Linked DNA regions of Homo sapiens: regions 2, 3 and 4 are each linked to region 1. The links come from fine-mapping of genetic effects on gene expression. A gene starts in region 1. Each other region holds a variant in brackets. All regions are shown on one strand. Distances are between the middles of the regions.

Region 1 (8,106 bases):
TTCCATCCACCTATTCATCCTTATCAAAGATCTGTCTTTGGTAGTGTTTGTTTCCTGGGCGGTCTCATTCAATCCCCAAACTTCTATGATCATGCATCCACTCTGGCTCTCACACGTTCATCTCCAGCTTAGACCCACATAATAAACTGCTACTGTACACCTTTGAACTAACCGTCCCCACAAATAGTCTCAATTCATCTCATATAAAAATAAGTCCTCTTTCCCTCCCAAACTGCTGTTCCACCTGGATTTCCTGTTTCGTTAACAAAAAGCATCATCTACTAAGCCATTCAATTCAGAAATCTGGATATACTGGACTCTGCCCTTTTCCTCATGCTCCTCATCAACTCACTCAGCACATCCTGCCATTTGACATAAGTGTTTCTTTACATAATCCCTCCTCCCTAGGGTCACAGTCCAGACCCTCGCGCCCTCACATGACCTCCTTGCTTCAATTCCAGTAGTTCTCAAACTGTGGTCCTCTCAACAGTGCCATTAGCAACACTTGGGAATTTACTAGAAATGCAAATTATCAAGCTGCCCCTCCTGACCTACTGAGTCAGAAACTCTAGGGTGGGGTCCAGTAATCTGTGTTTTAATTAATTCTTTAGGTAATTCTGAAGCTAAAGTTTGAGACCCACTGTTCTAGTCTACATCCACTAATCCATTCTCTACACTTTTAATATAGCCATCTTGCAAAACAAAAAACAAAAAAACAAAAACAAAAACAAATCTGGTTGTATTCCTGCTTTGCTTAAAAGCCTTTAGTGACATTTTTGACTAGAGTGAAATCTAAATTTCTTAGTACAGCAGAAAGAAAAATCCACTAGGATCTAGATCCTGCCTACCAGTTTTCAGAAAGTCAAGCACTTTAAATCATTTTTGTAAGAATGCATTGTCATGTAGTGATTAAGGGATGAGCTGTGGACTCATACCACCTGGCTTTGAATCTTCACTTACCACTTTACAACTGGCTGTGTGGCCTTGGATTAGTCACTTAATCTCATTGTGCTTCAGTTCCATTGTGTGTACAATGTGAATAATAACATCCATATCATAAGCTTGCTGTGCAGTTATCACAATACTTGGCACTTTGTCTGGGCTCAGTAATTGTTAGCTATTATTATTTTGATTATGTCAAAAAGAAAAAAAACATTACTGGAATTAACCTGTAGTATAGCAAGAACTGGAGAGGATTAGAATTAATGCCCAAACTAAGGGAAGTGGTCCCCATAAAGGAAGGCCCACTTCTCTGGGCAGTTTCAGTTAGTTAGCTAAGAATAAAAATACCCAGTCTCAACAGAGAGGTTCAGAGGTCTTTGGGGTTTGACTAGGGTAGTGAATCTGGTAATTAGATTCTAGGATATTATAGGACAGATAACTGTCAAGCTTCTAAAGTGAGAGCCAGGAAAGCTGTGAAGGAAGTCAGAAAACTGATACAGAGCAAAGAAGCAAAGACGGTGAAAAATTTCATGTATGTTTCTCTAATAACAGTTAATAGAGCAGCCAAGTGATCAAATGTGAGAATCCTACAATGACTGAAACTTGGTCGACATTTTCAGACACGCTGTTGGTCTGAAACAACGTTTTACATAAGAGCAAAAGCATTGAGTAATGGCGAGAATCAAAGTCTAACCTCCACCACAAATTAGTTATGGTCTTGGACAAATTACTTCTCTCCTGCCTCAATGTCATGATCTGAAATAGGGGGCCACATTATGAAGAGAACTATATACATTCATAGCTTAGTACAGTGCCTAGCATGTGGGAAGTGCTCAATACACGGCAGCCATTACTTTTATTGGGAGTATATTATCTTATACGAATCATATATAAAAATAGGCACCCCTGGAGGTTCCTGCTTGATCAAAGCAATTATATATTATCATCGAATATTTTGACTAAAATTGGGTTCCAACTTATAAGGTGAGGAAATACTGTAAAGACAAATCCAAACACAGTCATGTATCCCACATTCACAATATTTAGGGATTAGCAATTTTCACTTCAAATATGTACAAGATTAATTCTATCCAAATGCTCACTTAGTGTCTATTAGGTGCTAGCAAGACTACTAGCCTCAGGGGGGAACTACCAAGAAGAGTAAGGCATGATTCTTGTCCTCAAGGAGAATACAGGTTTGAGAAGATAATGGGACAATCTTAATAAAACATAACTCAATGCTGTATAGGGTCAAAAAACCAAACCAAACCAAACCAAACCAAACCAAACCAAACCAAACCCGCACAAAAAACTGCATAAAGTCTTTACCAAGTTGACTCATTTTTCAAAATCATAGTTCTCATTTTTTCCTCTATCCTCCTCTGAATTAGTCTCAATCCATTTTTACTTACTCCATCTTTAGTTACGGCAGGGAGTCAAGATCTAGAAAAACTAGTCACTGCCACCCACGATAACAGAAGGTAGCAGCCACTTGTCTTCTCTGCTATATTCCTAGTGCGTAGCAGAAAAGTAGAGAATCTTGTCCCCTTTGGTCCACAGAGGATGGCTTATTCTTCTGCTTCAGCTCTTAGTTCAGATGTCACCTACTCAGAGAGCCTTTCTCTCAGCACTCAACCTAAAGTGTTTTCCCTCTCCCTCCCCATTATTCTCTAGCACGTGATTCCTTCAAAGCCCTACCTTTGTGATGAATGCTGTGATGTGCCACCCTGACCCCCCTAAGGAATGAAAGGCTTATTTCCCCAGCTCCTGGAAGAGCTGAGACAGACCTCGGCTGCCAGCCTCCGTCCATGATTGACTTGGCTGAAGAGAGTTGAAGTTAGGCCCTTTCCAGGGAAACAGACATCTAACGACAGATCAATCAAGGGGTATAAAAGCCTGGCCCTTCTCTTCAACTTTGAAGGGCCAACCCAGCACTAGAGTTCCTGTGGGACTGGTGGAGAACATCCTTGAGACTTCACTGCAGCTTAACTTTTTCTATTGCCCAATCCTGCTTCCTTTCTTCCTTGGTAATCATCCAAAAAGTCTTCTCTAGTAAATGTCCTGCCTCTAAATCTCCTCAGAGTCTGATTCTCAGGAAACCCAACCTAGGACAATCTAGAAACATCTTGCTCAATATCAATGTGCAATCACCCCTCAGTATTTGGGGGATTGCATCCAGGACCCATGATGGATACCCAAATCCAGATGCTCAGGTCCCTGATTTAAAAATTGTGTAGTAGGCCAGACGCCGTGGGTCATGCCTGTAATCCCAGCACTTTGGGATGCCGAGGCGGGTGGATCACCTGAGGTCAGGAGTTCAAGACCAGCCTGGCCAACATGGCGAAACACCATCTCTACTAAAAAATACAAAAATTAGCCAGGTGCAGTGGCGGGTGCCTGTAATCCCAAACTTCTCCGGAGGCTAAGGCAGGGAGAATTGCTTGAACCCGGGAGGCGGAGGTTGCACAGTGAGCAGAGATCCAGCTTCAGCCTGCGCGACAGAGCGAGACTCTTTGTCAAAAAAAAAAAAAAAAAAAAAAAAAATCGTGTAGTTTTGTACACAACTTGCCACCTCCTTCCATGTACCTTAAATAATCTCTAGGCTACTTATAATACCTAATACAACGTTAAATGCTATGTAAGTAGTTGTTACACTGCAGTGTTTAGGGAATGACAAGAAAAAAGGTCTGCACGTGTTCAGTACAGATGTAACCATCTTTTTTCCCCCAGAATGTTTTTATTTATTTATTTTCTTAAATAGAGTCTCTGTCGCCCAACCTGGAGTGCAGTGGCGTGATCTCCGCTCACCGCAACCTCCGCCTCCAGGGCTCAAGCGATTCTCCTGCCTCAACCTCCCAAGTAGCTGGGATTACAGGCGTGCGCCACTGCGCCCGGCTCATTTTTTTGTACTTTTAGCAGAGACCGGGTTTCGCCACGTTGGCCTGGCTGGCCCCAAACTCCTGACTCAAGTGATCCGCCCGCCTCGGGCTCCTAAAGTGCGGGGTTACAGGGGTGAGCCACCAAACCCCGCCGCCCCAAAATATTTTCTATCCGCAGTTGGTTGAATTCACACATGCGGAACTCATGGATAGGGAGCGTATTGTTTCTCCCCCATCACTAGAACATGGAGTCAGGACCGTGCAAGTCCCTCTTGGTCACTGCCGTATCTACTAACTCGGCAGTGCTGTAGACACGTGTATATCTGTTTATGGATAAACTGAAGATGTTAATGAATGAATGAAACCGTCATATTGAGTCTCTGAAACGGCAACAGGATTTGGGTATGGTCTTATCGGGGAGGAAGACGAGCATGACCTTAGAGGGTCATCCCTACAAGGTCCACAGCCCTGCAAGCCCCGCGGCTGCTTTCACGTAGCTGGCAGGGCCACGCTGCACAACGTCTCTAACGCCGTCGGAGGGCGGCCCCCACCTCCCGACAGCCTGGGGTACACCGTGCACCCTCCAGACAGTCAGGGGCACACGGGGCCCCTCCCAGCGAGGGAGGGGACGGGGAGTCACAGGTTCGGCGTAGAAGGCGGCAGCGCAGGTGGGAGCGTGGTGAGGCGCCACTCCTCCAGCTCTCCCCACCGGCGGGAAGACCTCCTCGCCGCCCGCATCCGTGCCGACCGCAACATTTACCATCGGCAGCTATTTCAGAGGTCGGTCTTTCGCCTCCTACAGAGAGCCAGCCTCCTCCTTGTCCCCGCCCTCAAATATCCTTCAGTGAGGACACCGGTGACCTTTGGGGGTGGAGAGGGAGGCGCCTACAAGCCCCTTCCCCTCTCTTCGGCCGGACACAAAGCGGGCTTTTCCACCTAGAGTCCCAGCGCTCTCACCTGCGCACCAGCCGTCGCGCCGCCCCAGGCCGCCACCGCCAGAGGCCCCAGAAACAGATCTCAAGCAGCCGCTGCTGCCGCGGATCCCGACAACCTTCGCGTCGCGCGAGGGCACGGAGCACGCGCAGCTCTGCGGTCGACGCCGGGCCGCCCCCACTCCGCTTCTCCGGGTTTTCCGTGAAGCTCCAGCCAACAGCGGCCGTCACCGGAAAAAACGGGGAGCGAAGTTTATTCAGCGTATATTCCAGCAAATTGTTGAAACTGAAATTTTAAAAGAACGCATAAAATTTAAATAACATATCAAAATGGCACAGCTTCTGCCTTTTGGTGAGCGCTTGACAATGATTTATTGAATGAAAGAAAGAAATAGTCCACTGCGCTCTGCTCTCTGTCCTGACATGACCAATTACAAAGCGCTTGGATTTGTCGCTCAGCGCCAGTATCCCGCCTCTCTGTGCGGTTGTCTGGAAAATCAGGATTTTTACTCTCCCGTAACTCCCGGGATCGGGTTTGGAAAACGGACATGCGCCGTGAGAGCTAGTTGCCTTCTACTAAAGCATCCGCCCTCAGTCCTTCCTGAGGGCTTACAGGGAAGTGCGGAGTTTCGCAGCTCGTACTCTTCACAGATTAGATAATTCACCCGGCATTTCCCCATCCTGCTTCTGGGTTCCAGGACAAAACTTTTATTCTCTTTTAACATTAAAAAACATATAGGAAGTTATGTTCAAACATGGCTATTTTTATTAAAATTTATCCGGCACTGTGAAAGCTACCTTTCCTTTCTCACAATCTTTCGCACCGAATATATGTTCCATTCTTGAGCTAGTCATTTTCCAATGTTAAGAAAACACACCACAGAAAAGCGTTTTTTTTTCTCTCGGTCAGTTCAACTGCCTAGCACCGTGAGTTACCATGATACGTTATTTGCTAATGAGAGTCATTGGGGTCCCAGCCTTTAAAAATAGCCTGCGTCCGGCGCCATTTTTGTTTTGGGCCCACTTTGAAAGCCGCGATATTCTGAACAGAGGCCATTTTTCTTTTGGGCAGATTCCACGGGCCATCGAAGTGTTTCGCTGCCATCTTAAATCCTGGCTGTGGCCTCAATCCTGCAGCGAAGCTGCCCAGATCATTTTGTGTTTGGGCGGCGGCTGAGTTCCCAAACGCGCGCGGAGACCCTGGGAAGGAGGAAGTAAGCGCGAAAGTGCTTCCCTTAAGCTTCTGAAGGTTGGCTGCAGTTCCGGCTACCTGTGTAGTCCGAGTTTCCACAGCCAGGTACTACTCCGCCAGTGACCCTGGACAGTAACAAAACATATAAAGCCCGAGCCCAAACCCCGCCACCATCATAGGTAAGCACATGGACCTCTGACAACCTCAGATGTTCCTTCAAGTGAACTGAACTGTTTGCCCATCTCCTCCCTCCTGGTTTTTGGCTTTGATTTTTTGAGACTTTTCCGAATCCTTCTCCCTGTACTTCCACCTTTCTTCATTGTTTTCAAAAAGCCAAAAAGTTGCTAAACATCAGGATGCCATGAGCATGGGCATTACGGTGGAGATATTATTCAGGAAAGTTAACTGTCTTTGCACAAAGGGAATGCAGTAGATGGGCCAGGTATTTGTATCAAATCATGGCTACCTGCATCCAGCAGTACAAATACCTCCCCCTTCCCAGACATTTTTGGAGATGTGAGGTAAATACAGATTGCGTTTGTATATACTTCCCATTCATTCATTTATTCATTGCATTTCTTGAGTACCTAATTTGTGCTAGGCCATAAGGATTCAGGAGTTAGCTAAAAAAAATCCATTAACTCATGGAGCCTACATTTTATCACCTTGACATCTACTAGGTTGAGACAAATAACAGTATTTTATGGTTCTTAGCACTGCTAGACTGTATAAACAAGTATTTGCTTTCTCCTTCCCCTGAACTATTTTTTTTTATTTTTAGTTTTTAATTTTTTTGGCCGGGTGTAGGAATTAATGGTATTGACACTTACTTCTTGGATCCTAGACATAACGATATTTGTAAGCCAGTTGGCTAGCGTTAAAACTAATATTCCAGTTACTTAGGGCCTTGTTGCTCCAAGTTCATTTCACCTACCACCAGCATCAGCATCCCTGGGAGCTTGTTAGAATTACACTTCATGACTCTCACCCCAGAGCTGCTGAATCAGAATCTTCCTCAAGAAGTGTACCTTAAAGTTCAAGGAACATTGATTCAGGGCATGGGCTAAAGATACAGCCCTTTCTTTCTTTCTTTTTTTTTTTAGATGGAGTCTCGCTCTGTTGCCCAGGTTGGAGTGCAGTGGCGCGATCTTGGCTCACTGCCATCTCCGCCCCCCGGGTTCAAGCAATTCTCCTGCCTCAGCGTTCCCAGTAGCTGGGATTACAGGCGCGCGCCACCACCCCCGGCTAATTTTTGTATTTTTAGTAGAGACAGGGTTCGCCATGTTGGCCGGGTTGTTCTCGAACTCCTGACCTCAGGTGATCCACCCGCCTTGGCCTCCAAAGTCCTGGGATCACAGGCCTGAGACATCACGCCCGGCCTGGCCCATTCTTTGTTCAACCCGTGCTTCTTAACTAGATTCACAGTGTATTATCAATTTATTGCATGTTCTAAATGCAATGGATATTTGACAGGTTTTTTTCTGTGCTTTTAGTTCATTGACTTGATGTTAGGGCGTCAATTTAGCTTTCCAAAAAGTTGAAAAGAGATTTTGTCATCCCAATATACTTATATGTAATTTCTGTTATAACATCTGAAATGTAGGGTTTTCTCTGTAAGTCTTAGCATCCAATTTACCACTGGTTTGCGTTTTTTTTTTAAAAGTTGTTTACTGTGCTTCTTGCTTTCTCATATCTTGTATGCATATTTGTACTTTTAATTTGTTAAAAGTTGAACTCAAAAGTTTGCATGTGGACAGCAGTTCAATACTGACTTGGAAAACCTTGGGCCTTGGTTTACCAAAGCTTTTTGTGGCACCTTGCTTTCTTCTGTCTTCCCATTTTATTTTACTTCTTTTATTTTTATTTTTTGAGACAGGGTATAACCCTGTTGCCCAGGCTGAAGTGCAGTGGTGGGATCATAGCTCACTGTAACCTCCAACTCTTGGGCTCAAGCGATCCTTCTGCCTTGGTCTGTCAAAGTGCAGGAAAGCAGGCATGAGCGACTGCACCCAGCTGCCTTCTGTCTTTCTTTAATGAGAAGACTAAATCAAGAGTTCTCAGCCTTGGCTGCACGTAACAATCACCTGGGAGCTTTAAAAACAGACTCCAGCCCTGTATCTGCAGAGATTGAGACCCTCTGGATGAAATTAAAGAGCCAGTA
Region 2 (8,106 bases), 290 kb after region 1:
CTATTATCCATATGGTTTAAGAACTATTTTCTGTAAGGGTAAATGGCATAGAGAGCTGTAAATAATCAAAGTGTATTTGATTACAACAGTAATTGTTTCACAGTGTTGTAGATCAAAAACATAACATAGGATGGAGCCAGTTTCAGATCTAGCAAGCTTTCAAAGCTATTGGCTTTAAAAGAATGAGGTCCTAAGACTAGGGCTTCTAGTTTTCAAAGTGCTGTGCAGAGTTTCAATCTCATGATCTCTTATCAACTCTGAAAGGGGACACCTTTGTTGTCTTTGCTGAGTAACAGTTAAAATTTTTCCATTTTAATTTCAATGGATAGCATTGTTATTTTATACAATATGAATTGTTTTATGAGGGGTTAGCTGTACAAGCTGGGGACTACAAAACTCTCTACTTATTTACTTAGTACCTAGAAAAGAAGTAAAGGAACAGAAGGAAAGGATTTTTTTTTTTTTAAACAGAGAAGAGATCAGTGACACACCTAGCCACAACTTGAGGCATTCTAGTGGGGGTTCAGTTTCCACGTACATGACTTATTTGGCAGAGCAATATGGTCCCAAGGTTTCTGATTCAACTGTCTTAAAAAAAATTTATGGCTAAAACACAAAAATTTCTGAGTGTGGGTGTGGGGGTTTTTAAGGCATAACTGTGGCGGAGTCAAAAGCTTTTTAGAAGCTCAGCAATTAAGACAGATTACTGAGATCTCTTTCTGAACAGAGATGCTGTGATCTCTTTGGGGAGGACCTGTCTGGGGAGGAAGCTGGAGGTTTCACTTCAGTGCAGAGTGAACTGGGGCAACCATCTTGCGTTCTTGAGATGGGACTGCCCTCCAGCAGGTTTTCTAACCTAGACTGCAACTTTCTTGTGAGAAAAGGAAAAATATTCTTTGGGCTACGGGCCTTCTTTAGCTAGTGGTATGTTTTGAGATGCGTGTGTGTTTTAGATTGCAAGCTTTCTAAATTTCTTTTATTTGTAAGAGTCTGTGATTCCATGTGTGTCTTTTTAGTTTGGCAGGAGCAAGTCTCAACTGAGAAAGAAGTGAACAGAAGGCTTTCTCTTTGTAGACTTCCGCATGAGATCAATTTCTTCTCAGCCCACTGTTCAGAGCAAGAACAGAAATGGAAATAGTTCTCTTTTTTTGCTGGCAACCAGGCAACTTTCCCTTGGGACAAAAAGTATCAAGGCTGATCCTGCATTTCCTCAACGTGGCAGATTGACTTTGGTTAAAGAGTCTAGTGAAATTTCCCTGTGTGAACACTAGATCCATTAGCTTTCTTCCCCAAAAGCTATTTACATGCTTGCCCTGCACATGTCTCTTGTTTGTCACCTATTTTTTTTAATTGCACCAAGCTTTGGCTCTATTTTAAACTATGTCCAGCCATTTACCATATTAAGGAAAAAAGCAGGTATTTATCTCATTCCACGAGGTGCTGATTGGTTGTAAAATGTCCTTGTAAAATCTGTTCTTGCTGTTAACCTCATTTGTATGAAGGAAAAGTATTTGGAATTTGCTAAAATTGCTGAACAAGAGGCAGAGCAGTCACTTCTGTAGCCTCGTGTTTGTTTTATGAGAAAATCCCGAGCCTCTAAGGACCTTGGTAAGTCTCCTGGTGGGTTCCTCTGGCTCTGGGTGAATCGGCCACTTGACATGGCCGTGCGCATTACTGGACTTTTCCTGTCTCATGCCTCTCCTGGGAGGGAGATTACAAGACTTCTCTTTGTAACCTAATATGATACATATCAACTTATACATCAAGAATTCATCCTAAAAGCTAAGCTGACATCTTTCTGGACTGACTTAAAGCCAATTTTTGGTTGTTTTTTCTTTGGAGATAGAGAACTTTGATCTAATAACACTCCATATATTACTCAACCACCCTGTGGGGCCAATCTCAGTTCCTTTAACCATTTATTCCCCTTGCGCCTTCCCAAATGTGTAATCCGTTTACATTTTCTCTTCTCTAAGTAATATATTCTTAAGGTATCTGTGACTCATTTTTTTTTGCATGCAAAATGTTGTGCTGTTTCTGTTCATGCTTCCACAGTGACCTTCTTTATCCACGTGCCAACCGTGCCATGTTTAGCCAGGCCAAGAGCATATGTGGTTTCCTTTGATGGCACAGCCCTGGTAACAGAGACAGCCATGAGAAACAGAAAGAGAATAGAAAAAAGGATCAGGCTGTGTTTCTGTCTAGAACATAGATCAGACTAAAAAGTATTCAATAAGTGAATTCTACATAAATAAAATTTCATTTCTATGTCATTTTCCTTGCTGTCTATACCACCTTTATTAATAATTAGAAAGCTTTCTTAGTGGGATATTTTGAAATTTAAAAGTCATCCCTTTTTTAATATCTTCAGAATAATAAAATACATTATAACTAGAGATTTTTACGCTAATTCAACCACTATCTTAGGGTCGAAAATTGGCAATTTGGTTGATCTCCCAATAATGGGCATTGCCCAGAAGCTATTGTGTTCCCCAAAGTAACACTGATAAGAGGAGACCACTCCCAGAATGCCATGGGCCCTTTCACTTGGAACTAGCATGGGTGTAACTTCTTTACTTCCTGAAGCTATATCAGTTACAAATATGTGGAAGCAGAGAAGATTAAGCTATTATGGAGAATTTTCTTCTGAATAATTCATATTATTTTTCCTGGGTAGAATTGTTCATTCCCAGCTCCCTCCCTTCAGATACGAACTAAATTTTGAAAGTTCAGTACATTTTTTTCTGAACATAGAATTCTGACCATGATAATAGGTTCTGGGAACGATCTGAGTTTTCAGTATTCCAGTGAACAGGATGTAATAAAAACTTCATAAAGAACCAACACTTTGTCATGTACTTCGAACATTGTTTCACTAATAGTGATTTTCTAGTTTTTAGCTCTTGAGAGCAAGTAACTTATCATCTTAGCTTAATTATTCATGGCCCTAAAATAAAACAAGAACACCCTTCCAAGTCATATTTTAGTAAGAATTGTCCTAATCTCAAAATCCCATATTTTAAATCAGTGAGATTTTAGGTTTTGTCACTTTCATGGTAAGTTTTTTTTTTTTTTTTCATTCTGGAAGCTTTGCCATCAATTCATTTTCTGCATGATCTGGTTTTCGATTGTCTTTGTTAATGCAGAGCCATCTTGCTCAGTAAGAAATGAGCATGCAAGGACCCAAGGCCAAGGAGTTGATGTTATTTAAGCCTTTCTGGGGCAGAAGCTGTTTAGAAAAGCCTGTTTCCCTTGCTAAGTAACTCATCTAGAGTCGTGGGTAGTTCTCTTGTTGTTTCCCTAGTCAAGACATCAGGTTCTTTACTGTCTCATCTACATCAAATAAAAGCTTGAATCTTGCAGAATAGATGGAATTTATTTAGATGTCTGTTACTTCATATTTATGTCCTCCCTCCCAATGGCTATAACAATCCTTAGCTTTTTGTGACAAAACATGCACAATCCCAACCCTCTCTTTCTTCTTTCTTCTTTCCCTCCTTTCCCTTTTGGAAGGGCACTCTTAGAGAGAAGGATTGGTTTTTAGACTACCATTGCTACAGTCTGAATGCCTTAGTGGGAAGGGTTGAGAGGACTGATTTAATAACTCAAGTATTTATTGAGTGTCTACTAGATGCTAGAGATTGAGGTTACCTGAGTTTGGCTTGTGCATCTCTCACTTCCAGAATGGCAGCAGTAGGGACAAACTGAAGTAGTGCTGTTCTGAGCTTGCTAGTGTGCAAGTGTTATTAAGATGACTTCACAATGGCAAATTGGAATAGAGTACTTGAGACCCAGCTAGTGGTATCTCTTAGGCTATAGGAAAGAAAGCAGAGAAAGATTAAGAGTGACTGCCATCCAAGCATGGGGGAACTCCAAGTTCTCTTTGAGGAAGAAAATAGAAGCATGTATGGACCAGGGCAGTTGTTTCACCTGGTTGAACAGGCTTCTTGGTA[T/C]AGACAAAGGCAAAGCACTCAAGAAGACATCTGTCTGCTGCTGAGGTAGTGGGACAGACAGGGCATAGGGGACTCTTTTTTACTTATTTTGCCTCAAATGCTATAACCCTGCAAGGAGAAATAAAAGCTAGCATTCGTGGAGTACTTACTATGCGGTAGGATTTATTTTCAGCCCTTTATATGTAATATCTAATTTAAACCTCATAGCAACCTGGAAAAGCAGGCACTATTATTTTTCCGAAGAGGAAACTAAAATACAAAGTGTTTGAGTGCCTTGCCTAAATTCACGTAGCTAGCAAAAGATGGAGCCAGGCAGTCAGATTCCATAGGCTGAGACCCCTTATCAGAAAATTGGACTCCTTGGGAGCAGGTTTCTTGTGCCAGAAACTGCAGGGAAAAAAAGGTACAGAATCTCTAACAGAAAGTTAGTTTCTGATAGAATTTAGATGATTTTGTTAGTTTGTCTATAGGCATGGAATCATTTGATATAGGGGGAGGGTGCATGGTCATATTTGATGAGCACACACATTTCTTCAAATTTCCCCAAATTTGCTCAGAGTTTGGAAACTTCAGTCCATGAAGCTCTTGTAGGTAGTTTTGTTCTTTTAGAAAAACTCATTCTCCAGAGCTGGCAAAGCAGAGCCCTGGAGCTCCCCGGGGACAGTGGGAAAATTTTTTCTCTTAAGTCAATTGAGCTAAAGCACCAGCAAAGTGGCATTTTATAGAAGAGCCTTGATCAAAGTCAGTAAAGCTGAGTATATTTCCTTAAACATATCTTTAGGTAAACAGGGAGGATGCAATAAGATTTTAAAATAACACAGTTCAGTCAGTGAAACAATTGAAGATACCCATCTGATTTAAACTGAATTCAGCAACTGCAACAATACTATCTGATGAAGGAGATTTTGTGTCACATGTTCAAAGCTGGCTTTAAGTCTTAAGAGGTATCAAAATAATCAAAGTGTTTTCTTTGCCCTTAGCCATCAATGAGAAAGAATTATAAATGGTTGAAATATTTATGTTAATCAGAAACCGCAGTTGGGAAGTGAAAAGAAAGGCTGTTTCTGAGCAGAAAACAAGGAGGAGTGACCCTGTTATTACAGCTTCTGTCTTAGAACAGTTATACACTCTCTGCTTCAGATCCTAGCTCCAGGATATCCCAGGCTTCTTGGAGGAGGCCTTTTAATGTGAGGGGAATCAGAATTGCTAAAGGGATCCTCAAACTTCATGAATTAACCTAATCATCTGGAGTGATTTTTTAAAGATACAGATTCCAGGCCTCCCTTGGAACTTCTGCTCTAATAGGTTCAGATTGGAATCCAGGAATATGAATAACAAGTCTCCCCGTATGAGAGTCCTATGATCAATCAGGACCGGGAGCCACATTTTGGTGTACCCATTTTACAGATGAGTAGACTGAGACTTGGCAAGGATAATTTACACGCTTGATCGCTGCTCTAGATGTGGAGCTGAGACTCGAATCTAGAATCTCTCTCTCTCTTTTTTTTTTTGACTCTAGATTGAGTGCTTTTAAAATGTCTTTGGGTACATGTGAATTGGGCAGTTAGAGATGAGTGTGTGTGTGTGTGTGTGTGTATGTGTGTGATATGCAGATACATAAGGGTGAGGACCTATCAGTAAAAGGTGTTAAATATTGAACTATTAATAATTACACTATAATTTTAAGTATGGTAAGATGAGCAAAAATCTCCAACTCTTGGAATAAAAACGTTTATCCCATGAACATATAATTATTTAGTACCTAGTCTTCTGGGAAAGGTAAAAGCACAAGAAAGAGAAATAAGATACACTTTCCTAGGAGTTACTTCAGGACAATATTCTAAAATACTTTGTCCAAGGCTTACATTCACATAGAAGAATCATACCTGACATCTTAGAAAAGATAATTAGACAAGACAGCGAAGAAGTGTCATATCACTTGTATCTCCTCTTCCCAGTCCAGTAGGCACAAAGCACTCTCCTGTTCACTTCTGCTTTTTCTCCCATTAGATTTTGAGCTCCTTGAGGTAAAATATGACTTGGAAGGATGTTCTTGTTTTATTTCAGGGCCATGAATAATTAAGCTAAGATGATAAGTTACTTGCTCTCAAGAGTTAAAAACTAGAAAATCACTATTAGTGAAACAATGTTTGAAGTACATGGCAAAGGGCTGGTTCTTTATGGAGTTTTTAAAGAGGGTGGGGATTGTGCATGTTTTGCCATGAAAAGCCAAGGATGTAAGTATTCCTACTTACATCCTTAAATGCCTAGCCCAATGTCTAACATATAATACTAGTGATCATAATAATAATTTATTGAGCTCATATTTAATTTAAAAATCTTATGATATAGGTAAGGTTTTAACCCCCATATCATACATGAGGAAACAGATATGCAAACACCATCTGGTTTGTTTAGTGAGGGTAGAGGAAGCTCAACTTTGTTCTCTGTCCACCAGAATGGACAAGGAGGGGGTTCAGGACAAGTTAGGACTTTTGACAAGGCCTGGAGAATGGATACAGGTCAAATGAGGAATCGGCTGGGGAGTCATGCTCCCTGCCAGAAGGAAGGAATGCTAATATACTTGAGAAGGAGGGAAGAAATAAAGGTAAGCATGCTTGAGTATCAGGTGCAGGTTTGTGTCCTCCATGCAGGGTTGAGAAGAGAGGCAGTAGAAACCGTGGTTAGAAAGGTGATTTGGGGTGGACCCAAGAATGGCCATTGATGGCCTTTGTGGACGACCTTGAAACCTGGGCTGAGAACCTTGGCTTTTATTCTGTCCACATTGGGGAGCTCCCAGAAGCTTTGAGGAGGGGTGATATGGCTTGGCTGTGTCCCCACTCAAATCTCATCTTGAATTGTAGCTCCTATAATTCCCACATCTCGTGGGAGGGACCTGGTGGGAGGTAATTGAATCATGGGGGCAGATCGTTCTCATGCTGTTCCCATGATAGTGAATAAGTCTCATGAGATCTGATGGTTTTATAAAGGGGAGTTCCACTGCACATGCTGTCTTGCCTGCTGCCATTTAAGATGTGTCTTCCTTCCCCTTTGCCTTCCGCCATGATTGTAAGGCCTCCCCAGCCACGTGGAACTGTGAATTATACCTTTTTCCTTTATAAATTACCCAGCCTCGGGAATGTCTTTATTAGCAGCATCAGAACAGCCTAATACAAGGGGAAACAATGTCCCAGAAAACGGCTATTCTAGGATGGCTGTGTCAAGAATTAGAAAAGGTCTGAGGCACCACAGCTCAAAGTCCCTATTCAAAGAAATAAAGACGTTTGGAGAAAGTACCAATTAAGGAAGAGAAGAGACGATGAATTTATCTTTGTATGTGTTGAGTTGGGGATTGAGATGCCCAAGTCAGGTGGCCATCTCTACCAGGCAGTTGGAACTATGGGGCTATGGAGTGAGCAGCAGAATGGGACTGGAGTGGATTTTTGAAGTTGGTAATAAATGAGATCTCTGAGTAGAAGAATAAGAAACAGGAAGAGCAGAATTCCGGGACCAAATATTGTGCACCTGTTCTATTCGGGGTCAGGAAGAAATACCAAGGCAGCAAATGGGCAAAACAGTAAGTGGAATCTGGAATGTAATGAGCTTCTGCATTTTATTAAAAAATACCCTCTTGTATATGATTAACTGTCTCATGTGCTCATTTCTCATGTGTGTGTTTATCCAGTGAGTTTTTCTTCCCAACTTCCGACAAGACACTTCTACCACGCTGCTTGCCAACTGGAAATCTTGCCAGGACCTTAAACTTAATATTTCCCAAATTGAACTCGGCTTCTCAATTTCCAAACTTGTCCTGTGTTCTGTGTCCTCTATTAGTAGTGACAATTTCCCATCTCCCAGGCTCAAACGCTTCAACTGTATTCCACTTTTTTCCAAGGCCCAGAAGGTTGACCTCAGTGCTGCTTGTAACTGCCTGGCCTCCCCTCCCACACCGCTGTACTTGAGTTCAGGCCCCCAGTGCCTCTACCTGGGGATGTTGCACTAACCTCTTAATTCATCTTCTCAAGTTTGCACTCTCCTCACTCTAATCCATCTTAAACACTGCGGCCACCAGACTCATCTTTTGGCATCTGATCTCTTGACTCACCCGATCCTCTTAAAGATCTTGCATAGCTTCTATTTGCTGACAGCAGTC
Region 3 (8,106 bases), 30 kb after region 1:
CCTGTGTGAGGGATAGTGGGAAGGGAGAAGAGAAGAACTGATGATGAGTGCAAGATCTTGGAGATGCTTTCATATATGTTGGTGTTTCTTTAGGACATTTTCTGTATGCTAGTCTTACCATAAGTGCAAGTTCAAAACATCAAAATATAAATTACAATAGCTAGTTGGCCAGATTAGATACTATGTAATATTATAGCTCTGTCTTATTTTTAACCAAGTCAGTGCTTATTTAGATTTACTAACATATTTATAAATTTCATTGCTTTCAGTTGTTTTTTGTATCCATATATATATTCTTTAGTATTTCTTTCTGTGAAGGCATGTAAGTGATGAACTTTCACTATTTGTGTGTCTAAAAATGTATTTGGTCTCACCCTAGAAAGATATTTGGTTGGTTTTAGAATTCTAGGTTGAGCATTATTTTCCAACAACAGTTTAAAGATAATTTTTAATTTTCTTCTGGCATCTTTTATTACTACTGAGAAATGTTTTCATTATGTATTGATGCTTAAATCCACCTTAAAACTTAGTGGCTTGAAACACGAACCATTTTATAATCTCTCCTGATTCTGTAGGTTGCCTAGCATCAATTGAGTAATTTTTCCTTTTGATGTTGGTTGGGGCTGCAGTTCTACTTAGGGACTCAACTTAGGTGGAAAATGAAAGATGGCATACTCAGTGCAGTTGATGCTGGCTTTGGTTGGAATCATTGCTGGATCTGTTAATTGTTGTCCTTTAGTTCTCATCCACGTGCCTGTTCTGCATGGCTTGGGCATCTACCCCGGTGGCTGAGTTTTGAGGGGTAGCATCTTAAGACTTGCACAATGAAAGAAGTATAATTTGTCAGTCCTCTGAAGGCCTAGATGCAGACATCTCAGATGCCACTTCTGTGGACTTCCATTGATCAGAGCATTCACAGGGTCAGCCTAGAGTCAGGGGAAGCTGCACTCTTGACTTGAGAAGCAGTATTTTCTCACAGGGATTGGGAGAATTGTTGGGGTGCGTCTATGGAGACTACTCACCTCAGAAGTTCACTGTTGGCCTGATCTGATTCCTTCTTGGTTATCTGTCTTTCTTCTCTGATTGCTCTTAAGATTTATTTTTGTCTTTGCTCTTCTATAGTTTCACTATGAAATCTCTAGTTATAGTCTTGTTTTTATTCTGGCTTGGGATAAAATGTATGTCTTCAATTTGATGGCTCAAGTCATCAGTTTTGGAAAATTCTTGACCATTTTCTCTGCCTCTCCTAATTCTCTCTGTTCTCTTCTTATAGAGAACTTTTATTTGAAGTTTGTTGGATAGTCTCATATGACTTTATTATATGCTAGAGGAGTGAGATTAATTTTTCCAAGACTGAGCCCTGGTAGTCTGTCTGCTCAGAAAAGGGCTGGGCTTCTTGCAAAACTCTGTTGAAACTGGCTATGGCCAAGTAGGGCAGACCATCCTGGTCAACCATGAAACTTGGACGTGAGGCCCCTAATTATGCAAGAGATGGGTCTGTTCCATACCCATGGAAATGGCATATTCTGCTACCATATTATCCCATCTTATAGTGATGCCTGCAAGGCTTGGAACAAAGCTTCCAGATCATGGCAGGCAGAGGAGTTGCCTCAACCGTGAGTATCAGGCTAGCATAATAGGGATAGGGACAGGGTTCTGACACATCGTATTGAAGGCTCTGCACATCACTTTGTGGTTGTATTTCTGCCTCTGACAGGCTAGGGACCAGTGGTTCTCTAATCATGTACCTTACTTAGAAGCTCCGTGACTCAAGCATGGGGATCCCTTTTTAAATATCTGACATGAAGTTTTGCCAGGTTTCTGTGCTCTGCTCCAGGGTATCATGAGCAGCAGGAGACCTGCACACCTGCTACTGATGTTGTCAGACATGCTTTCTTCCCAGGGAACACTGCTCCTGAAGTCTTGTGTGAGTGCTGTGTGGCCAGTGGCCAATTGCCTTTCCCTGTTTTTCTTTTCCTTATTACTTTGAGAGTGCTTTTTTCCTCTCTGAAACAGGATCTCACTCAGTCGCCCAGGCTGGAGTGCAGTGGTGTGAATATGGCTCACTTCAGCCTTGACCTCCTGGGCTTAAGCAGTCCTCCTGCCTTAGCCTCCTGAGTAGCTGGGACCACAGGCATGCACCACCACTCTCGGCTAATTTTTTTTATTTTTAAATTTTTGTAGAGATGGAGTCTCAGAGCGAAAAAGGAAGGTATTACATATAACCACAAAACAAGGTTAGGATGTTACGAACTAGGGAAATTCCCAAGAACAAGAAAGAGCTCTTATAAATTAAAAACATAATATAAATGAAAATATGATAAAGTATGGGGCAAACACCAAGGAACACTGCCCAGAAAGTAGAACAAAAAGATAATAGATTAAAAAATTGAGGAGAAAACCACAAGAAAATTAGAGTTTCAGTCTTGATATGAAAAATTGGAGTTCTAGAAAGAAAAACAAATGGTTGAGAAAATATTATGAAAGAAATAATGCAATACAATTTACTGGAAGTGGAGGATACAAACTTCCTGTTTGAAAGAGCTGTGAGTGAATACACAATAAAGTCAATGAAAAAGAGTTGTGCTAAGGTATATCATCCTAAAATTTCAGAACACTGGGAATTTAGAGAAGAACTTAAAAAGCAAACAGATTACAGACAGAGAATCAAGAATCAGAACACCCTTCTCAACAGCAATAACTAGGAGACAGTAGAACAATACCTTTAATATTTTAGGAAAAATGGTTTCCAACCAAGAATTCCCTTTACAGCCCAACTTTCAGTCACATGGTAGAATAGAGACATTTATTTTTAGGATGCAGAATGTAGAAAACACTTCCCTTCTGATGCACACTGTTTTAGAAAGGATGTGGTCTTCCAAAATAGGGGAATAAACAGAGAAAGAATCAGATATGGGATCCAGGAAATAGGGAACCAGTCAGATGAGGGCCTAACCAAATTCCTTGATGATTACTGTGTATTTTGCCTAGAAAGTGTAAGGGTGGAAAGGGTATGATCCTTTCTTCCCCATCATGGAGGGTCACAGTCAGCACTCCTGTAACAAAAGAATAAGTTAACTAAGGAAAGCATAACAAATTTATTATGTGCACACAAGTGCATGGGAGTCATACAAAATATGAACACTCAAAAGCTGGATGTGATGGCATATGCCTGTAGTCCCAGCCATTTGGGGAGGCTGAGGCAGAAGATTTGCTTGAGCCCAGGAGTTTGAGTTCAGCCTGGGCAACATAGAGAGACCCTGTCTCTAAAAACAACAACAACAAGAAAAGAAAACCCAAAGAGCCAGACGGTTGACCCTTAATACCCTCTTCGTTGGGGAGAGGGAACTGGGAGATATAGGGGTAACTGATTTTTAGGGGAAATGAATGGACTCGAGAGACAGAAATTAACTTGTAAATGATTCTCTTTAGAATTTGAATGAGCCGAGAAGCAGATAATACCTAGTTGAAATGCCTGTCCACTGTGTGGTTGCATTCTTTAGTCTTCTCTGCTATAGATAATTTCAGGGAATATGGAAGGCAATTGTGTTCCTCTTTGGGTATCCAGTTTCTGGGCAGATAATAGAGCTTCAGCGGAGAGCCTCATCTTGTGCTTTGGGAGAGATAACGGATTGAGAGGAGGAGGGGAGGAGGTCAGAGAGACCTTGCTGCTGCTTTTTTAGTTTAGCATGTCAAAGTGTTATATTTCTGGGTATTGGTTTCTGAACTGCAACCAAAGTAACCAGTCCTATTGGAAGAAGACAGAGGGTTCCATGAAAGATTTCTTCAACAAAAAATGAAATGAATAAAATACATCATGTATTTAAATGCATTGAGAAGAGATTTTTTTAGGCCTGTCAGGTAGCATGGGAATGATTTAGTCATAGGAATATAGAAAACTAAACAAAAGAAAAATGATGCAACCCTCAGTTCTCAGTAAACAAAAGATTGTGCAAGATAGGAAATTAAGCATAGT[A/G]TACTACGTGGCTCAACTTTTTGTTCTTCTTGTTATAGAGATGGGGTCTTGCCCTGTTGCTCAGGCTGGAATGCAGTGGCACAGTCATAACTCACTGCGGCCTTGAACTCCTAGGCTCAAGTGATCCTCCTGCATGGTTCAGCTTTGAACAGAGGTTACATTTCATAATATTGTGAACTCCAAGTTTTGGAAGGCTGGGGAAGGAAACATGTGGGAGGGCAGGTATAAGGATTAAGTCTTCATTTTCCACATAAAGTATATAAAACTGAAATAATAAGACATTCGTAGGATAAACATAGTGTTTAGAAATATGTTGGCAAATTACCAGATCAAAAAGCTAAGTTTCAGTGTGGTTGCCCATGGTGAGTGAGAGTTGGAGTGAGAGAGGGGGCTGGATGAGGCAGAAGAGGCCATTTTGTTTTTTTGTTTGTTTGTTTGTTTGAAAGATGGGGTCTCCTTATGCTGCCCAGTCTGATCTTGAACTACTGGGCTCAAACAATCCTCCTGCCTCAGCCTCCTGAGTAGCTGGGACTACAGATGTGCACCACTACACCCAGCTTGAGACCTCACTTTGATATGTCGTTTTAATATGTGTCTATGCATTAATATAAAAATTAAGTGCATAAATAAAATGTAGGCTGCGTACAGTGGTTCACATCTGTAATCCCTGCATTTTGGAAGGCCCAGGAGGGAGGATCACTTGAGGCCAGGAGTTAGAGACCAGCAGCCTGAGTAACATAGTGAGACCCCATCTCTAAATTAAAAACAATAATAATAAATAACATTTAAAAGGAATTAATTAACTTATGCAAATTTTTCACATAGATGCAGCCACTTTTGACTGGGTTGAAAAGTACTTGGTTAGAGCAGGGTTTCAAAGTAACAGAAAAATTGATGAACACCAAATAGTTTGACACTTCATCTGGGTTGTTTATTCTAAGACTGCCCTTGGAATGGCATTAATTATTCATGCAAACGACTTACCCATCTGACCTTCCTGCATATGAATACTTTTTTTTTGTTTTTAAGGGCTGTGGTTCTGGCCTTGAATTCTTTTTTTTAATCACTATTTTTTAGAGACAGGATCTCGTTATGTTGCACAGGCTGAACATGAACTCCTGGGCTCAAACTGTCCTCCCGACTTGGCCTCCTACGTAGCTGGGACTACAGGCGGCACTGCCACCGCACAGCTGGCTCTTGAACTCTTTCAAGAGTTGAAGACTCTTCTGAGGCCAGACTTCCAGGAAATGGCAGTAGTGCATGAGATGTAGGAATCCTTGGAAGTATAACTTTCAGGGTCTATAGACTTCTGGGCTACTGCAGCTTCTAGCAGGGAGGTATGTCCTGTACTTCAGTGAGTGACTCTTATTTTAACTGAAAGAAGTGGTAGCAGCAGGCGCATCTCCCCAAGGCTTCATAGCAATCTTAAACCCAAGCTTTGCACCCACCCCAGTGTTTTAAAATTTCCAAAATAATAAACTCTTTAGGGTAGGGAAAAGATCTAGACCAGAGATCTGCAAATTACAGCCCACATGCCAGCTGCTTGTTTTTGTAAATAATGTTTTACCGGAATCCAGCCACTCCCACTTGTTTACATATCATCCCTGGCTGCTTTTATGCTACAATGAAGTGGAGGGTTGAGTAGTTGAAACAAAGACCTTATTGCTTGCAAAGTCTGAAATAAACACACTCACACACACTGATTTATGTATAGAATATGTATACAAATATATCTTTTATTTATCTATTTTTTTGAGATTGAGTCTCGCTTGTTGCTCTGTCGCCCAGGTTGGAGTGCGGTGGCAAGATCTTGGCTCACTGCAACCTCTGCCTCCCAGGTTCAAGTGATTCTCTTGTCTCAGCCTCCCAAGTAGCTGGGATTACAGGCACATGCCGCCATGCCCAGCTAATTTTTGTATTTTTAGTAGAGATGAGGTTTTGCCATGTTGGCCAGGCTGGTCTCAAACTCCTGACTTTTAGTGATCCGCCTGCCTCTGCATTCCAAAGTGATGGGATTATAGGCGTGAGCCACTGTGCCCGGCCTACAAATATATCTTTTACAGCACATCTCAATTCCTATTAGCTGCATTTCAAATGTTCAGTAGGCACCACTGGCTAGTATCGGCTGTATTGGCCAACACAGATCTAAATTGCTGTATCCTTGGTACTCCTACCTCCTGGTACCTTATCAGAATAAGCATTCAATGAAGTTACCTTGGGTTAAACTGGCTGCAGGTGTGGGGTAAGTTAGCAAGGCCAAGGTAAAGCCATTTCCTTTGCAAGAAATAGACATGGACACATAATGTAATAGTCATGAATGTTTATCCATTAAAACAAAACTTTAGTAAAATAAAAAAGAAATCCAAATATCAAATTATTGTTAAAAGTGTCAAGTGATACACATGGTGTCTACCTCAGGAAAGTTTATGTGTCCACCCGCTGCCTTAGAGGCATTTGAAAAAGTATAGAATGTTGCCAGGGTCGCTCTCAATAATAATTCTAACTTATGATTTTGAATTTAAATTTTGGGTCCCAGCGGAGCAGTGCTGTGAAAGTTTCCTACCTCATTGTGTGTCTCTGTAGATAATTTCCTCTGCTTCCTGCATCTGTTTTCTTGGATTAGTTAGGTATTATACTAAAGTCTAGAATTCTTTTGGCTGCAGAGCTTTCTCTGCTGCTTCCCTTCCCCCCCAACCTACTTTATTGTGGGTGGGAAAATTTTTGTTGGGAGGGCTTGATTAATTAGAAGGGATTCCTGGCTTCCCTAGCGGTGGCAGCCTGGGAAGATTACAGAGCCTGGCTTAGTGACAGGCCAGTCTGTATTTAAGGAAAAACTCGGACCCGCCAGATTTCTCTGGAATGTGCATCTGGCTTTGTCTTCTACAGGGAATGTGTAATGATCCCCTCCTCTTTCTTCCCACCCATTCCAGGAGGCTAAACGCTTTTACTTTTGCTCTTGATGGGGTTGTCTACTTTTTATTTTGGGAGAGGGGAGGGCTGGAATTTAGGGGTGGGAAGCTTGAGTCGTTTTCTGAATCTAAAGTAAAAGATTTAAGGTTTTATTAATATTTAGGAGGAAAGGAGAGATTTTATTAAAAAAAAAAGAACTCCCTGCATCTTTACTATCAATGTTTTTCTTTCCACTCTTTCAGAGCAATTATAGTTTTATATTCTTCTCTGAATTTCAGTTAACCTTAGTCTTCACATTCCTTAGAACACCACAAAAAGAGAAATAAGCCTAAGAATTGACAATGATTTCCCCTTTATAGTAAAAGTATAGAGCAGCTCTTTAAACTTTCAGAGAAAGAGACAGTTGAATGGTAAATGGGTAATCACTAGGCTTTTGTCTTGCTAGTTTGCCTCAAGGAATCACTTAAATCCTGTGTCCTAGGTTTTTTCGTCTACTTAAATGGGAACGTGGTACTGACTATTATCAGTGCTCATTTGAAAATGGCTGCGTTGATTTTGTGTATCACATTGAAAAGATTTATGCAATTATTTTCATATCAATTGAGTTCTAGGTACTGATTTTTCTACACATTTTAAGAAAGAATAAAACTGAAGTGCCTAAACAGAATAAATCACAAACATTTTAAATGGTTATATTCCTTACTGGAAATAACTTTGGAGTGTGCAACCTTTGTCCCGAAGAATGATTTTACAGAGATTTGTCCCTGTGAAACTTTTAAAGTGAAAGAAGTACCTCTATATTTCTTCTCCTGATACTTAAAGTCTGCATCTTCCAATTCCTCCTTAATTTCATGTATTCCTTGTAAGAGCTTTATGTTTTAAAGACATACAGGGTCAATGCGAGTTTGCAGAGTGGTTGATGCTATGCCCAAACTAACATAGGATGCTGTTTTCCCATTCAGTATCATTGTTCTATTGCTTTGCTCATGCTGGAAGCTGTATTTAAGTAAGTATGTGCTGATTTCGTGAAAGAATTGAAATAAAATTAGTAAAAGTTTTCACACCAGCAGTCACCCAATGAGTTTTATCTCAGGCTTAGAGCTTTTAGATACCTTCTCACTCTGTAAGGCATCTGCTCTGAGTGTTGATGACTTTGAAACAAAGTTCTTGGACTTGAAATTAATTTTTTTTTTCTAAGAGTTCTCTCTGCCTTTCTGGCC
Region 4 (8,106 bases), 240 kb after region 1:
CGACTACCCCAGCCGAGATCTAACTATAGTGTCCCGGCTCCCTCACCCGCCACCCCTAGAGATTTCCCCAGTTAGCGCCTAGTTTCAAGCCAAAGCCCTTTAAATCCCTCTCGCAAGGGATAACAGGGCTCGGCCAGGCGCGGGTGTGAGGCTCCGCCCGGCCTCCTTCCCGAGTAGTCACTCACCGGCCAGGCGAAACTGAAAGGCAGCACGATGCGGTTGCGGTCGTTGCCGCGGCTGGCCTTGAGGTTGAAGGTGTTGCCCCCGATGACAGGCGTGGACCCTGAGCCGAAGCTGCAGGGCCCCCCGGCCGTGACGCGGGACTGATACTCCTTGAGGCACACTTTGAAGTATGTGTCACACTCGTCGCGGGTGCACTTGCGGTCTCCCGGGTTCCGGGCGCCGCCGCAGCAGTTCCCGTTCTGCAGCTCCCCGTTCACGTTCTGCATGGACAGGATCTCCAACTCGAACTGACCCGAGGCCCCACACACCTGCCGGCGAGGGAAGGAGGTAGGTCAGCGCGGGAGAAAGCTGTTTTCTTCGAGTATAGAGGTGGCGACTCCCTCCCACTCCCCGCCCCGACGAGCCCTCCTCGCCGAGTGAAAATAATTTTGCGAAACTACGTTCAAGGACTCAACATGATTCCGGGGCAAAAAAAAAAAAAAATGCACGAGTGCGGAAGAAATCCGACGACTTCCCGGGGGGCAACAGCGGAGCGAACGCGCCCCTGTCCGGCCTGGAGGGGTCACCCTCAGGAGGCAGGGGCTCCCGTGGGGGAGTTGGCGCGCTCAGCCCAGGTGCAGCCGCTCGGGCGCAGGGGCGAGGAGTCGGGCGCTCGAGGGCTGCCGAGCCTGCTCGCGGGGCTCAACCGCCCAGGGCGCCGCGAGGGGAGGGAGAGGACGGCTGGGAGGGAGGCCCGGAGAAGGGCTCCTACCTTGGCTCGCAGGGCACAGAGCAGGGCGAGCAGGAGGCTTAGGGGGCGCCCGGACCGGCCGCGCGTCCGTGGGGAACGCATCGCTGCGCCGCGCGCCGCGGGCACTCGGGACGCCGCCGCTGCTGTTCGCGCTGGTGCTGCCGCCGGTGCTGCCGTCGCCGCTGCCCCTGCGGCCGCCGCGTCCCGGCTCTAATATACTCCGCCGATTGGAGCATGCACGACTGGAAAACAACACCACTTTTCAAAAGCCCTTTCAAGAGCGGCCCGTTCCAGAAGGCAAAGAGCCCGGCCTCCTTTTATTATTCTGATCGCTTCTTTGAGACGCTCCCCCTCCTCTTCCACCTCCCGGCTTTCTTTCCTTCTCTCGCGCTCCCCTTCTTTTATTATTATGATTATGCGCAGCCTTTTATTCCCTTTTAGATCAGCTGCATGGAAAAAGGGGGGAGGGAGGGGAGAAAAAAAAAAACCAGCCTAGCTCGCGGGCCGGCCGCAGGTAACACAATGACGCGTGCCCGCCCGGCTCTCGGAGAAGGACCCGGAGAGCCCGTCTGGCAGCAGCGGCCGGGGCTGGCCACCTCTACCCAGCACGCCGGGCAGGGCGCATGCGCGCTTATTAATATTCATGAGAGGGCGTGCTCACCCTGGGCACGCCCCTCCCCTTCACGTTGCTGGGGAGGGGGTAGTGCGAGGAGGAACTTGGAAGGGGTTGGGGGCAGCGGGATGCTCAGGGCGGCGTAGAAGAACCAGGGCCCCACACCAACCCCCGCCCTCGGGAGCTTCGGGCCAGGAGGGAAGGGAGAGTGCGGGGAGGTACTTGGAAGGGATCGTTGCTCAGGGACGCCTGGAGGCCCCCAGCGGGGACCGCCCCCTCGGGCGCCCCGGGCCGTGCGCCTTTGCCCGCGCGTCGGGGCCCCAGGTGTAGGCGCCGCGGCGCTGACTGAGCGGTCGGAGCGGGGCAGCTTCCGCCTTCCGAACCGCCTGCGTCAGCTGCGGCTTTCGCCCCGGGAGGAGGGCCTGCCTGCCCGCCGGGAGTTCGGCCCGCTTCCCGCGAGCGAGCCGCCCAGAGCGCTCTGCTGGCGGCAGAGGCGGCGGCGAGGCTGGCGCGCTTGCCGCCGTCTGCTCGCCCCGCGGAGGCGACCTGGGCAGACGCTGCTGGGAACTTTGAAAAACTTTCCTGGAGCCAGGCTTGCCGCAGATTCGAGGGGAAGCCTCGGCCGCGTCCCACCCCCTCCCAAATCCGAGTCTGCGGAGCCTGGGAGGGCTCCCAGCTTCCTATCCAAACCGCGCCGGGGCAGAGGCGCGGGGAAACCGGGGGTAGAAGGCGGCGGGCACGCCGGGGCCCTGTTCAGGCTTTGGGAAGGGCCGGCGGAGATGCTGGTGGGCTTGGACGCCCTCCCCGGCCCGACGCCCCGGCCGCAGTGCCGGGATTGCACCTGTAGGCGGCCTCCGAGCAGCTCTCTGGGTGGCAAGAGATGGGCCTGGGAGGGACCGTGTCCCCAGCACCGCCAGCCGCGGAACTTGCCTTCTCTGGGGTGGCAGTGGAAACCGATACTGTTTTCCACCTTGAGGCAAGCCTCGCAATTAACAGCTACACTCCTGGTCATAATCAAGGTCGAAGAAAGCCCGTGGGCTGGCCGTAGCCTCTGCTAACCCCTCTCCCACGGGCTTGCTGTTGCATTTGAGGGGACCTTTATATGGAAACATCGACTTCCTTTGAAGGGTGGACAAAGTTTTGGCCCTAATAGTAGGTATGTCCTGCAGAAAAGCGTGACTATTCAGCGGCCGGTTTGGGGCTTGAGTTCTCCTGGGTGTGGGGCGTGATGGGCTGGCAATAGGTCAAGGGAAAATAGTTTCCAACATGCTGAGTTATGAGCATAAAAGGGTGGGTATTTGTGGTTATCTACTTATTGCATTTGATGGGAGGCTCAGTATGAACAATATTTTCAGTGCCAAATCTCATCATTCTGAGGAATAAACTAGGGCAGCTAACTGACCTCTTTACATAGGTTCAAAGCTACCAAGGATGGTTAGGAGTCTTGGCATTTTAACAGCCTAAGAAATGCTCCTAAGAAAAGTGCTTACTTAGTGGTAATGTGTCCCATCTTGAGCACTGGCGGGAGAATCCATGTTTTGGAAGGGAGGTTTCTAAGAACAGAGCAAGTTTACAGCTGGTCATGTTAGCAGCTGGGGTAGGCAGCGACAACCTGGGTGTTTCAATGTGCCCCAGCCTCCCTTTCCCCAATTATCCTAAATCAAGGCAACCAGTTGTCAACTGTAATCCCATCTACACTTTTCTCACTGAGGTTTCCATCAACACCAGTCTCCCCACTTATCTGTCCCGTTCTAATTTCTACTCCCAAGTATCCCTGAGTTTGGGTGCTAAATAACGGTTTAAAAGTAAAATGGGCCGCGAGCTGTGGGTCACGCCTGCAATCCCAGCACTCTGGGAGGCCGAGGCGGGTGGATCACGAGGTCAAGAGATTGAGACCATCCTGGTCAACATGGTGAAACCCGGTCTCTACTACAAATACAAAAATTAGCTGGGCGTGGTGGCACATACCTGTAGTCCCAGCTACTCGGGAGGCTGAGAGAGGAGAATAGCTTCAACCTGGGAGGCGGAGGTTGCAGTGAGCTGAGATCATGCCACTGCACTCCAGCCTGGCGACAGAGCGAGACTCCATCTCAAAAAAAAAAAAAAAAAAAAAAAAGGCAAAATGGTGCTGAAAAAGGCTGGTGTGATCTTAAAGAGCACACTCCTTGGAGTTCCCTATGTCGGACCCTGTTTTAATTCTGTGCCTTGTGCCCCCCACAGCTCTCAGGAAAGAGGCTGCGGAGCCAGACCTTTAGTTAAAGTGTTTAGATCTCCACCTGGCTTCACCTAGAAGGGCTACCTGAGATTGCAGGTGCCACCAGTTGCAATCTGGGCCACATGCAAGCTGGTGTCACCTCCAGTCCACCAGTGAATTTAGCCCATTTGAC[T/C]GATAGGAAAGAAAATATAAACTCTGAGAGGTGAAAACTACCTGATTACACCTAACAAGAATGTCAAATCACTGATAAACACAAAATTTTTATGTCACATAGCACAGAGTCCCACACCCTTCCTGAGCCTGGGAACCCACTTTTAGAGAAGGCAGTTGTGGGCTAGAGGGAATTCTTTTGAAAATTTTCAGTTGGGGCTCTTCCAAATAATTGGGACTCCCCCAAAAAGCCAGTCACGTTTACCACAACAGACACTGAGTGGAAGCTCTATCCTCTGCTTCCTTGAAGCCGGTTGTCAGGCCCCCTCCTTAGAGAATGAGGAACTGCTGCCGAGAGAACTGAAATACAGAGATTCCCCCTTGGCAGGGCTTGTCCTGCTTTGGGGTATAGCCTCCAAGTGTAAATGAATATTCCAGAACAACCTTCCTGTGGAAAATGCCATCTTTAGCTGTCATACCTACACCTGAGAGAAGGGGAGAGGCTTGTAGTCAGTTACTATCTGACCTGTCTCGTGTGCTCAAACATCATCCTTGGATATCTTTTCCTTTAATTCTAAAAAGATGATGGATGCCTCATTTTTTCTTTTCCCAGAAAACTTGCCCCACTTTTATCTAGTCAACAACATATAGCAGTTCTGAACCTGCAAAAGCTTTATAAGAGACATTCAAGCTATATTAGCTGTATTTAAGTACATCTAATCAACTGTAATCCTTGGTTAATCAACACTGTGGTTAAAATAAGCTAATCAATATTTATTGAGAACTGCTATTATAAGCAGTAACATCGATGATCTAAAAAATATTATGTTAAGTGAAATAAGCCAGACACAAAAGACTACATCCTGTATGAATTTATTTATACGGAGTTCCAGAACAGGAAAAACTGGTGAAAAAAGATCACAAGAGTGATTTTGAGGGTGGGTGGGTGGGAGCAGAGCTTCACTGGGATGGGCTTGAGGCTCTTCTGGTGGCATTGTGGGGTAATGTTTCATATTTTTGATAGGTGTTTGGGCTACACAGGTGTATGCATTTGTCAAAATTTATTAAATAGTACATTTAAGATTGTATTTCATTAGGTGTTCAAAAGAGGAAAAAAGAATTGTGAACAGATATTCACCTCCAGTTATATGAGTGCTGAAGCATTTAGCGGGGAAGTGGAATGATATCTGCAACTGACACTGAAATGCATACAAAATTAGAGGGATCAGAGAGGATGGCTGGGTGGGTGGTTACACGCTGAAGCAAAATAGTAAAGTCTTTTTTTGTTTTTTTGAGACAGAGCCTGTTGTCCAGGCTGGAGCGCAGTGGCACAGTCTTGGCTCACTGCAATCTCCGCCTCCCAGGTTCAGGTGATTCTCCTGTTTCAGCCTCCCGAGCAGCTGGGATTAGATGCATGCCATCATACACGGCTAATTTTTGTATTTTTTAGTAGAGATGGGGTTTCACCATGTTGACCATGGCTGCTTTAAAACTCCTGACCTCAGATGATCCTCCTGCCTTGGCCACCCAAAGTGCTGGGATTACAGGCATAAGCCACAGCGCCCAGCCAGTAAAGTCTTAATGGTAGAATTTAGGTGTTACAGTGGTGTTCACTGCAAAATTCTTCGACATTTTTCTATGTTTGAAAATTTTCCTTCTTAAATCTTGGGGAAGATAGTTATTGATTTGCCAGGTATTTTGTGGGTGCCAAGAATATGGTGGGCAACACCACAATACTGGTCTTCAGCACTACTGAGTGGAGAGTGTGTTTCAAAGGAATGGTGATACTGTAGATTTTAAGAGTGAATGAGGCTGGGAGCGGTGGCTGACGCCTCTAATCCCAGCACTTTGGGAGGCCAAGGCGGGCGGATTACCTGAGGTCAGGAGTTCGAGAACAGCCTCAACATGGAGAAACCCCGTCTCTACTAAAAATACAAAATTAGCCAGGCGTGGTGGTGCATGCCTGTAATCCCAGCTACTCAGGAGGCTGAGGCAGGAGAATTGCTTGAACCTGGGAGGCAGAGGTTGCGGTGAGCCGAGATGAGATGGCACCATTGCACTCCAGCCTGGGCAACAAGAGCGAAACTCCATCTCAAAAAAAAAAAAAAAAAAAAAAAAAAAGAGTGAACGAAAGGAAAGTAGTTCTTTCTTCCCATTCTTCATTCCAGTTAGGTTCAAATTGTAGAGAAGGCACATGTAAAATATCCATTAAGATCTTCCTTATTCCTTGTTTGAACTTGCAGAGATGTTAACACAAGTTCACAAATCCTGTTCCACGGATATGTTATCTTTCTGCCCCTTTCCAGCAGAGCCCAGTGAAGCTCACATGTCCCGCCAGGTTACTGCCTCCCATGAACCTGTCCAGCCAGCTCCCTAAGGAAGCACAACATCATTCTCCCACATCACAAGATATTCTACATGGAAAAAAACCCACCACCAACCTATAGATAACAGACACTGAAAATCAGGGTATAGTTGTAGCAACCACAACCAGGCCACAAGTTTGCTCATTCAAGCATAAGTTGAGTAGATCCAGCTATTTTTTTCCCAAAGATTCATCATATGTACACAAGAGATCTGGATTAATTTTTTGAAACCAGAACTGTGAATTTTTTTGTATTATCAACAGTGATTTTGTATGAGCGCATGTTAAACATTGTCTTGGTTTTATCTTGAGCCCAGGTAGTTATGATTTTGTCCTCCCTGCCCCAATCCTGTTTCATAGTCATTATGTGGAAAACCATCAGGATGAATAGAATTATGTGTCCACATACCCTTTACCAAACCAATCACAGAAAGTCGCCAAAAAACTTACATGCAAAATCTCAGAACTACGAGACTAATATTTACATTTTACTCCTTAGTTAAAATCAAATGTTCTTTGTGAAGCTAGAGTGTGGGAGAAGTCCTACGTACAAAATGTACTTTTTTCTTAGAGTTCAGTCTTTTCAGGGAAAAAAAAAATTCTGCGTGTAAGTTGCTGTTAAATTGGCATTCTCAAAACAACTGTAAATGATTCACATATCCTCCTTTTTTTTGGCACTGATACAGTGAGTCGTCTGTTCTTGTGAATGGCACTTGAATGACTTAACCTATAGATATTCTGGGATGGAATTTTTTTTTAACCAAATTGGTCCATTTGTACAGTCGACTGATTTAAATGCAACTAACAATTTTCTATAATTGTGAAGTATGACTGATCTCTTACAAGCCTTTTCATCTCCTGAAAGGTTCTGGAAATTACACTTCCAGAAGCAGGTAGTATTTGGAAACTACCACAATACAGTTTTCTCTGTGAGTACCTTTCATCTCACTTGCACTCAGCTTTTCCAAACAGATGCCTCCAGATCTCAAATAAATAAATAAATAAGGTAAAGTAGTTGCTGGAACTTGAGGAAGGAGAGCTAAATGTATTTAGTTATCTGAGAAAATTTCAAATTTTCACATACATAAATGTGAGAGTCAAAGAAAGGTGATTGCACCTGCCAATGGCATGAAAATAACAGAGCTTTGAATTACATATTTCATGTTCAGGTTAATGGTCCCAAATAAATTACAAGACTGTGTCTGTGTTTGACACTTTTGTTCTCAAGCCAGTGGTTTCTGTACTGATGGCTTCCTCTAAATTAGAAGTTATTAAGAACATCAAAAGTGGATCATTGCAATGCTTAGGTTTGATTTCCCATTGGGAAGATAAATAGTTGTTTTTATTATTGCTTTATGCTAACAGCACTTAAGGATGACTAAATAAAGAAATACTAGCTTCAGCACAGAAATATTGGTACAAGTAACAACTATACACTTCTAGATCCTTAGATATTAGTCATAACATAGGTTTACTGATACATAGATTTTCATAAGCATCATTCAGAAATCATTTCAGAGCAATATCAGAAGTTCTTTTTGCTTTTGGAAATAAGGCTAAGACATAGAAAACTTAGAAAGACTATAAAGAAGAAAGTTTAATTTCCAAAAGATGGTTATTTCCTCCACTGAAGTGATAATATTTCTTAAAAGCCAGATAAAAACTAGAGAAGTCAATTATTCTATTTCAGGATAGTTTGGCAGAAATTCATGTGAAGAGAAGTTGGGGTCGCGGGGGTGGGTTTCAACAGACCACACAGGTAGTGTAATGCAGATACTAGGAAGGGCAGGGCTCACAGTCTGAGGAATGTAGGCGTTGGCAGTCAAGGAAAAATCATAGCCCCAGCATAT

Direction of the effects. Alleles are on the strand shown, and positions count from the first base shown. SD is a standard deviation of normalised expression in the study named. Not every link is listed here.
In carriers of allele T in region 2, the expression in anterior cingulate cortex of the gene that starts at base 4,893 in region 1 tends to be lower than with C alone (moderate effect, 0.71 SD a copy in GTEx).
For the expression in left ventricle of the gene that starts at base 4,893 in region 1, allele C in region 4 goes with a higher level than allele T (moderate effect, 0.46 SD a copy in GTEx).

What was found.
Region 2: its variant is fine-mapped to the expression of MKKS in anterior cingulate cortex (GTEx, PIP above 0.99).
Region 3: its variant is fine-mapped to the expression of MKKS in whole blood (TOPMed, PIP above 0.99).
Region 4: its variant is fine-mapped to the expression of MKKS in left ventricle (GTEx, PIP 0.95).

Annotation. Positions count from the first base shown.
Region 1 is chr20:10,429,330-10,437,435 of GRCh38, forward strand. It overlaps MKKS (MKKS centrosomal shuttling protein), which reads right to left and starts at 4,893. Exons shown (of 6, transcript NM_170784.3): 1 at 4,779-4,893. SLX4IP (SLX4 interacting protein) reads left to right here and starts at 5,976. Exons shown (of 8, transcript NM_001009608.3): 1 at 5,976-6,124. It overlaps LOC128706665, which reads right to left and starts at 4,893. Exons shown (of 3, transcript NM_001394148.2): 1 at 4,779-4,893. LOC128706666 reads right to left here and starts at 4,893. Exons shown (of 3, transcript NM_001394149.2): 1 at 4,779-4,893. RefSeq lists enhancers at 2,288-2,789, 4,740-4,799, 5,690-5,919, 6,080-6,129.
Region 2 is chr20:10,719,614-10,727,719 of GRCh38, forward strand. No RefSeq gene overlaps it. Among named protein-coding and RNA genes, the nearest start is that of LINC01752, 29 kb to the right of the region's middle. The variant T/C (reference allele first, on the strand shown) is at 3,954.
Region 3 is chr20:10,459,787-10,467,892 of GRCh38, forward strand. All of the region lies in intron 2 of SLX4IP (SLX4 interacting protein), which reads left to right. Among named protein-coding and RNA genes, the nearest start is that of SLX4IP, 29 kb to the left of the region's middle. RefSeq lists an enhancer at 6,786-7,485. The variant A/G (reference allele first, on the strand shown) is at 3,977.
Region 4 is chr20:10,672,516-10,680,621 of GRCh38, forward strand. JAG1 (jagged canonical Notch ligand 1) reads right to left here and starts at 1,484. Exons shown (of 26, transcript NM_000214.3): 1 at 935-1,484; 2 at 186-491. The coding sequence starts at 1,015. RefSeq lists a silencer at 1,707-2,106. The variant T/C (reference allele first, on the strand shown) is at 3,914.